2 linked regions of the Homo sapiens genome follow. The protein of the gene in region 2 purifies or fractionates together with the protein of the main gene of each other region. This does not show direct contact. Each region holds a gene or a part of one and is shown on either strand. Other genes may lie near its edges.

Region 1 (3,828 bases), on a different chromosome or scaffold from region 2:
CTGCCCAAGGGAAATGAAATTAAACCCTTTCTCAAGAGCAATGTGGCAGCTGCCTATCAAAAAGCATGCATACCTTTTGATATCATGCTTTGCTCCGTAAGAACTTATCTTTGGGGAATAATTAAGGATGAAAAAGATGCGGTCACATTGATGCTTCATCCTTGTGTTGTTCACCATAAGGAAAAACTATACACAGTATAAATGTCCAACAATGAGACTGGCCATAACAAACAAAATACTACTCTGACAATAAATATTATATTATTGTTGATTATGTACTGACATAGAAATATATTCCTAATAATCACAGCTTACTGCAGCCTCAAATTCCTGGGCTCCAGTGATCCTCCCACCTCAGCCTTCTGAGTAGCTGGGACTCTATGCCCAGCCAATTTTTTATTTTTTGTAGAGACAAGGTCTCACTATGTTGCCCAGGCTGGTCTCAAACTCCTGTGCTCAAGCGATCTTCCTGCCTCAGCCTCCCAAAAAACTAGTATTACAGGTAAGCCACTGCAGCCAGCCGGTGACTGATTCTCCTTTTGAGTATGGATCCCTACGAGAATATGATTAAAATTATAGATACTTCCTCTCCTCCTCCTCCTCCCCAAAACAAAAACAAAAAACACAAAACCCTACTGCCTTTATGTAAGCTCACAAATTTTCCACATTTTCTTCAAAGAGTCAAAGAAACCTTACAGGCCATCCATTAACTCAGAGACCTCCAGTTAAGGAAGCCCCGATATTCACAGAGGCATTAACAATGCTTAATATCAGCAATGGGATCATGAGTTATGTTCTTTTTGTTGTATTTTCCAACTTAACTATATTTCCTAATTTGTCTATGACTGGTGTATTACTATTATAAATGAAAAAATGTTATTTATTTTGGGGATGAGGAGAGACCTTTGTCAATCAAGCCACCTTAGACATCTTCAGTCTAGCCCCAATTTCACCAACGTCTCCAGTCTGAGGGAAGAAGATAACTCCATATATGAGTTAAAGCACTGAGCTTCACACAGGCAAAATAAGTTGAAAGAAAATGTTTTGTTGCAGAAGAGCAAATGATGAGATTTGCATGAACTTCAAAACTGTACCTCGACCGGGTGCAGTGGCTCACACCTGTAATCCTAGCATTTTGGGAGGCCAAGGAGTGTGGATTGCCTGAGCTCACGAGTTCAAGACTAGCCTGGGCAACACGGTGAAACCTTGTCTCTACTAAAATACAAAAAATTAGCCAGGCATGGAGGCATCCACCTGTAGTCCCAGCTACTCAAAAGGCTGAGGCAGGAGAATTGCTTGAACCTGGGAAGCGGAGGTTGCAGTGGGCCAAGATCGCACCACTGCATTCCAGCCTGGGCGACAAAGCAAGACTCCATCTCAAAAAAAAAAAAACAAAAACAAAGAAGCAAAAAAAAAAATGTACCTCACACCAGTGTCTTCAGTTACCAAATCACGATCCTTGCCCTGGTCATAGCTCTCAGTGGACATTTCAGCATTTTCGATAAGAGACTGCATATCACTTGCAAATAAGTTTGGTCGTTTCCTCTGTGACTTAGGGCCAAATGTAGTTTCAAAACTTTCAGTATCAAGAATGTGCACCTTCAAGTTCTGAAGAGAAAGGAGAATAACAGGTAAAACTAAGAAAAGCACTGAGAAAAAGCAAAAAGCTCAACACCCACCTAGGAAAGACTTTCTGATTTTATTTTTCCAAGGTTCAACCCATACCCAAATCTGTAAGACATGGTTTCAGTCTGGTTTCAAATCAGAATTACTTGTTGAAATGGCACAAACACTGGTTCCCTTATTCTGAAGTTCTGTAAGCTTCCTTGGAGAAATACAAAAGTAATACAAATAATCAAAGTAAATATGAATAGTTGTACAAAAACTTGCCAAAAACTCTGCTTTATTTCATTTATCATAAATTTCAGTCAAATGTAATTAAGGCTACAGTGGTGAAAATTAATCTTTTCCACCATTTTTTATAGCTTTCAAACAAGAGCATAAAATTCGCCAAATTCATAGATTTTGTCAAGGACAATCATACTCAAATTTGTGAGTTTTTTTTAAACCAACTGTAAATGCCAACTTTTTCTTGGAAGTTAATTTCTTTCATGGCTAAAAGGAATTGCTTGTTTTGTAAGATGCATTTTAGTTTCAGATAACATTTTCCCTAATTTAGGTAACGTTTTTATTAAATGCACATGGCAAGTCTTCGGATGAAAAACATCTAGCAAAAGTCCAAAATAATAGTTTAGATGTGATAAAAGGAACCTGATACTAACTAGAACTTGATGTGCCTGTAAAGGAGTTACAGGCATAGGAATTTCTGAAGCAAGATAAAAGAGTTGGGATCTATCACATAACGGAATGTTAACAGCCTGCAGACAATTAAAAAAAAAAAAATCACCCTTTTCCCCCTAGTACAAGCTCCTCCGTAAGCACCACTACCAAAAGCTGTGAGGATGATGCAGCAGCCCCTGTGGTTTCTGAACTTTAACAGATCCCCTCTTCCAACTTCTAAAGATCCTTAAACTATTATCATTTTCTCAGATGCCCTAACCCACAACTCAGTTTAGTTTTAGTCACTACGTTCCACTCGGGAGCATCTCCAAACAGAAGCAGCTCATTTTACATGGGAAATAGGGTCTAATGTCACTGGGTAAAATCAAGTGTGACCAAAATTATCCTTCAAAATCTCTTAACCTGTAAGTTACAGTACCCAAGGCTTTATGTCTATAAACCTACACATTAGTAAGTATAACACACATTAGTAAGTATAACACAGTAATATACAGTATATAAAGCACATATGCAAAGTTACAGTACTCTTACTGTATTGCTACAGAAATACAGTAGTTCTAAAACACATATAGATGAATATGCGTATCTGATCTAACTCCACTGTGCAAAATAATCTCAGAATTAGATTTTATAAGTAATAGATATTACACTAAAATAAAATAGTTAAGGTTTTTCAAGGCCAAAGCAGAAAACTCATCAATTACTCTGAGCAGCTTTCTGCATCAACAAAGAAGCTGACTGGTGCAACTGCAGACCCTTCATTCTACATACCAGATATTTAAACACTGAATTTTAGAAGCACTGACAACAAGTACAGGCAACGAAGCAATAAATCCATCACAGAACCTCTCTGTTCTTCTCATAAACAGGATTCAATAGTTGCTTAAAAGATGGCTTTAGGGAGAACAGACAAAGAGAACAAGGGAAATGAGCAACTTGTCTGTGGTTCATGAATTACACTCATGTGTTCCCCTGAAAGAAAACAGTCATTCTACTAATAGGTGCCATTCTTCTAGTGCATCATAAAACAAAACATAACTGACAAAACCTGAGGCAATAACCAGGCCTTGGTTTTTATTTTGTTCTGCAAGTAAACAGTTTTCTTTGAACTATTTTATTTTTATTTATTTATTTGAGACGGAGTCTTGCTCTGTCGCCTGGGCTGGCACGCAGTGGCGCAATCTCGGCTCACTGCAAGCTCTGCCTCCCGGGTTCATATCATTCTCCTGCCTCAGCCTCCTGAGTAGCTGGGACTACAGGTGCCCGCCACCACGCCCGGCTAATTTTTTTTTGTATTTTTAGTAGAGACGGGATTTCACGTGTTAGCCAGGATGGTCTCAATCTCCTGACCTTGTGATCCACCCGCCTTGGCTTCCCAAAGTGCTGGGATTCAGGCGTGAGCCACCGCGCCCAGCCTGAACTATTTAACCCACGTATGCATGTCAATGTTTTTCTCCCCTCCTCATACTGGAACTGAAGCTTACGTACTGGCTACATTTCTGGGAATTTATTATTCAATGCAAGTAA
Region 2 (3,828 bases):
AACTATTTGAAGATGTCAGTTATTACAGTGGGATGATTAATTCATATACAGTATTAAGTCTCAAATTCAAGTATTATAATATTCACCCCATGTGAAAGTTTCTTTGTACTGGCTAAGATGTGAGCTGTGAAATTTATATTGCTCAGTTTGGTATTTTTCCCTATGTGTATGTTTTCCATCACAAAACCTCTGTCTCACAATTCTGTACTTGTAAGAGCTCAGGTAGGTTTATGTAGTCATAATGCAGTAGTCTAGAACACACCATGTAAAGGTAAAAAATAAAATTATTTTCAAGTTTCTTTGTTTTTAAAGTGCTCCACGTGCTGTATTATATCAACTTTCAGGTTATAGAAATCCATTATGACTAGCAATAGTTTTACAAAAGATCAGCAGTTAAGCAAGAATGATTTGTTCAAGTATGTATACATAGATTAAGAGAGCAAAAATTCTTTAGGCACATTCATATTCAAATCATACAAAAAAACCCATGAGAGTACATAAGAGAGATGGCAGAGGTGTTTAGAAGGAATGTCAGAGTGTCAGGGAATAATTTTTAAGGTAACTAGTATGTAAACTCAAAGTGGTTTTGAATATTTTGGTAACAACTATTTGTCCAAAACAACAGAAACAAGTACTTATTCCTTATCAGAAATAAAATACAAATCAAGTCTGTCCAAATGTTCAGAAGCTGCATCATAAAAATATTTTTTGAAAAATTTCATGCCTAATAGGTTGCCTCATCCATGTTGTCATCACTGTCTGCGCCAAAATCATCTCCATCTTCAAAGTATGAATTAATGTAGTCATTTTCCTAAGTGAAATGATATATTCCTTTGTAAACGTTAAAATGAATGAGTAGTAAGAAAATATTCCAGGCCTAAAAGTCTCTGCTTTTTATCTGCTTCAAAAACACAACAGTTTTCACTTGTGTTTACCTGTGCCGCTTTCTTCCTTAAGACCACCACCTTCCACTCTTGTCAGGCACTAACTAGCTAAGAGAACATGAAGGGTTGCCCATACCATCTCAATAGGATAATATAGCTACTAACACATTACAGCTTACTGGGATGATACATAGTTTAGTTAGCTAAACCACTAAACACTTACCCAAAAAATGCACAGACAAGAAAAAAAGCCAGTTTACATTAACATCCATTAGACTACACCAGTACTGAGATTTTTAGTCATAAAACATAACTAAGCATAAGCCAGAAAGACTTTTACTTCCTATTAAAAAAAAAAAAAAAGGCATGATACCAAACCAAATCCAAAAGATGCCTATATTATATTCTATCTAGGACCTCTTAGTTTCTTTTTCTTGTGGCTGAATAAGACTATCATCCATGCAAATAACTCAGAAAATATCTGTGCTTTCTATCAAAAATTCAAATATTACTTTCTTATTTATTTTTCCGGGCCTCCAGTATCTTACAATCAAAAATCCACTTTGGATATAAATTAAACCTAAGAGTTATTAATCAGTTGCAATGTATGGATTGTATTTGGATTCTGTTTGGAACAAACAAACTTTTTGAGACAACCAAGAAAATTCAATACTGGCCAGATATTTGATGAAATTAAGGAATTATATTTCATTGTATGGGGTGTTATAATGATACAGTGATGTTGTTAAAGAGCCCTTATTTTTGAATCCATACTGACATATTTGTGGATGAAATGATACGATGCCTAGGATTTTCTTTGGAATCCAAGGCACATGGGGCACGGGGAATGGGATGGGTGGACAGGGAGGGATTGGGTAGATGAATGAGTGGTTGAAAGATTAGCTATGAATTGACCATTGTTAAAGCTGAGTGATAAGACCATGGGTGTTTCTTTTACTAGTCACTACATTTTTGCACATGATTGAGATCTGCTATAATAAGAAATTAATGTCCACATCTCTACTATCTATAGTAAGAAATACAGACTACTCTCAAAAGAAAGTCTCCTATCAATTTTACTAATTTTTTTCCAAAGTTTTTTTTTTTTTTTAAATCTGGATAGTGGGATTTTTAATATATTTACATAATGCAAGAAAGGTAACATGCATTATTCACTGTATATGCATTCTTTAGATAGTTATCTCATTACTTTTTCTTCCCTAGATACTTTAAGTTTCTGCATTCAGCTAAGACCATTCCCATCTCTGGAAAGTTGGCCTGGCTTTTCTGGTGCCAAAAAAATTTGGCAATATTTAGACACCTGGGTGAAGCTTGGGGCCTGTGTACCAGGGGAGGGTGGCATGGTTGAGAGTTCAAATGAGGTCTCATTGTAAAGGAGACCTTTGGCAAGAACACTTGTGTAGAAATAAAAGTAAGCCGATTTGTACATAAAGTGGAGATGAATAAGGAAGGGATACTCTAGTATTCCAAATCAAGCATATGTCACTTGTGTTTTAGACATGAGTACCTCCTCCAAGTTCTGTTTAAGTGATTCAAATTTGGTAATTGTGTGACGTTAGTAATCTTTTTTTTTTTTCTTTGAGACGCAGTCTCACTCTTGTCACCCAGGCTGGAGTGCAGTGGCGCGATCTCGGCTCACTGAAAGCTCTGCCTCCCTGGTTCACGCCATTCTCCTGCCTCAGCCTCCCGAGTAGCCGGGACTACAGGCGCCTGCCACCACGCCCGGCTAATTTTTTGTATTTTTAGTAGAGACGGGGTTTCACCGTGTTAGCCAGGATGGTCTTGATCCTGAACTCAGTGCAAGCAGACATTGTCAACAGAGCATTGCAAATGCCAGTCTTGTCTAGAGTATTGACCACACAAACTAGAACCTATAGCACCACCACCCTACTACCCCCATGGCAGTGTGACAACCAAATATATCTCCAGACACTACCAAATATCCTTTCAAGAGTATTGAAAACCACTGGTTTACAGCAATAAGCTTTCAAATATGACCCAAACTTGGCTCTTCCATTCAAAGCAACTGAGCTTTCTAAAATATAAACATGATTATACCATTCCACTGTTTAAAACCCCTCAATGCTCCCCACAGTACTCAGGATAAAGTCAAATTTCTCAGCTTGACATTCAAAGTCCTTAATGACCTGCTCATCTCTCCAGCTTCATCTCTCAACACAAGCCCACTTAACACCCTCTAGTCCCGCCATACCGATTTATCTGGTCAGTTAAATTAAGAAGCTACACTCCCATCACCTGCAAGCCTCTCTCCATGTTCTTTTTTCTCCCTGCAAGTGTCCACTCCATTCCATGTTCCTATCTTGATCTGATTAGCTCTTCAGATCACCTAAATTGTCTTCTTTGAAATATCATCTTTGATATGCCTAAAATAGACTTTGGTGTGCCCACAGCATCTCTTATATGCCGCTATAGCATCCGGTACTACTGTATCACAGCATTATTCACTGTATATTAACTGTTACCTTTTTTGTCTCTCTAGTAATTTCCCTGAGAGAAGAACTGTATCTTATCTTCATATTCCCATTGCCTAGTACAATTCCAAGCATATACTTAGTGTACACTTACTATAGGTTGAATGAAAAAGAACTGAGGAGTTACATGTTTATACAGGGTAACTATGGGGAGGGATGCAATCAGAGAGATTACAGCAAGAAAAAGAAGCCCGAGGGAAGAGCCCTGAAGAATACTGACATTTAAAGACTAGAAAGAACTCCAGAGACCATAAAAATGTACCAGAAATAGGAGAAAAACGAAAAGCATTATGTAACAAAAATTAAGGGAAGCAACCATGTTTGTCTAAGACTTGGCAATTAGCACAATGCCTGGCATATAGAAGATGCATATAATTGCTGTAAATTGTTGAATTTAAATAAAGGAAATCATAAATATATATATGTTGCCC

What was found.
Region 1: the proteins of POLR3G (region 2) and GNL2 fractionate together in Homo sapiens (co-fractionation; one large-scale study listed by BioGRID). This does not show direct contact.

The regions. Positions count from the first base shown.
Region 1 is NC_000001.11:37,585,888-37,589,715, forward strand, and holds part of GNL2 (nucleolar GTP-binding protein 2), read right to left. Parts: intron 3,366-3,828; exon of another isoform or gene 3,073-3,365; intron 1,609-3,072; coding exon 1,424-1,608; intron 1-1,423. UniProt on the Homo sapiens protein: GTPase that associates with pre-60S ribosomal subunits in the nucleolus and is required for their nuclear export and maturation.
Region 2 is NC_000005.10:90,509,036-90,512,863, reverse strand, and holds part of POLR3G (DNA-directed RNA polymerase III subunit RPC7), read right to left. Parts: intron 812-3,828; coding exon 725-811; 3' UTR 1-724. UniProt on the Homo sapiens protein: DNA-dependent RNA polymerase catalyzes the transcription of DNA into RNA using the four ribonucleoside triphosphates as substrates.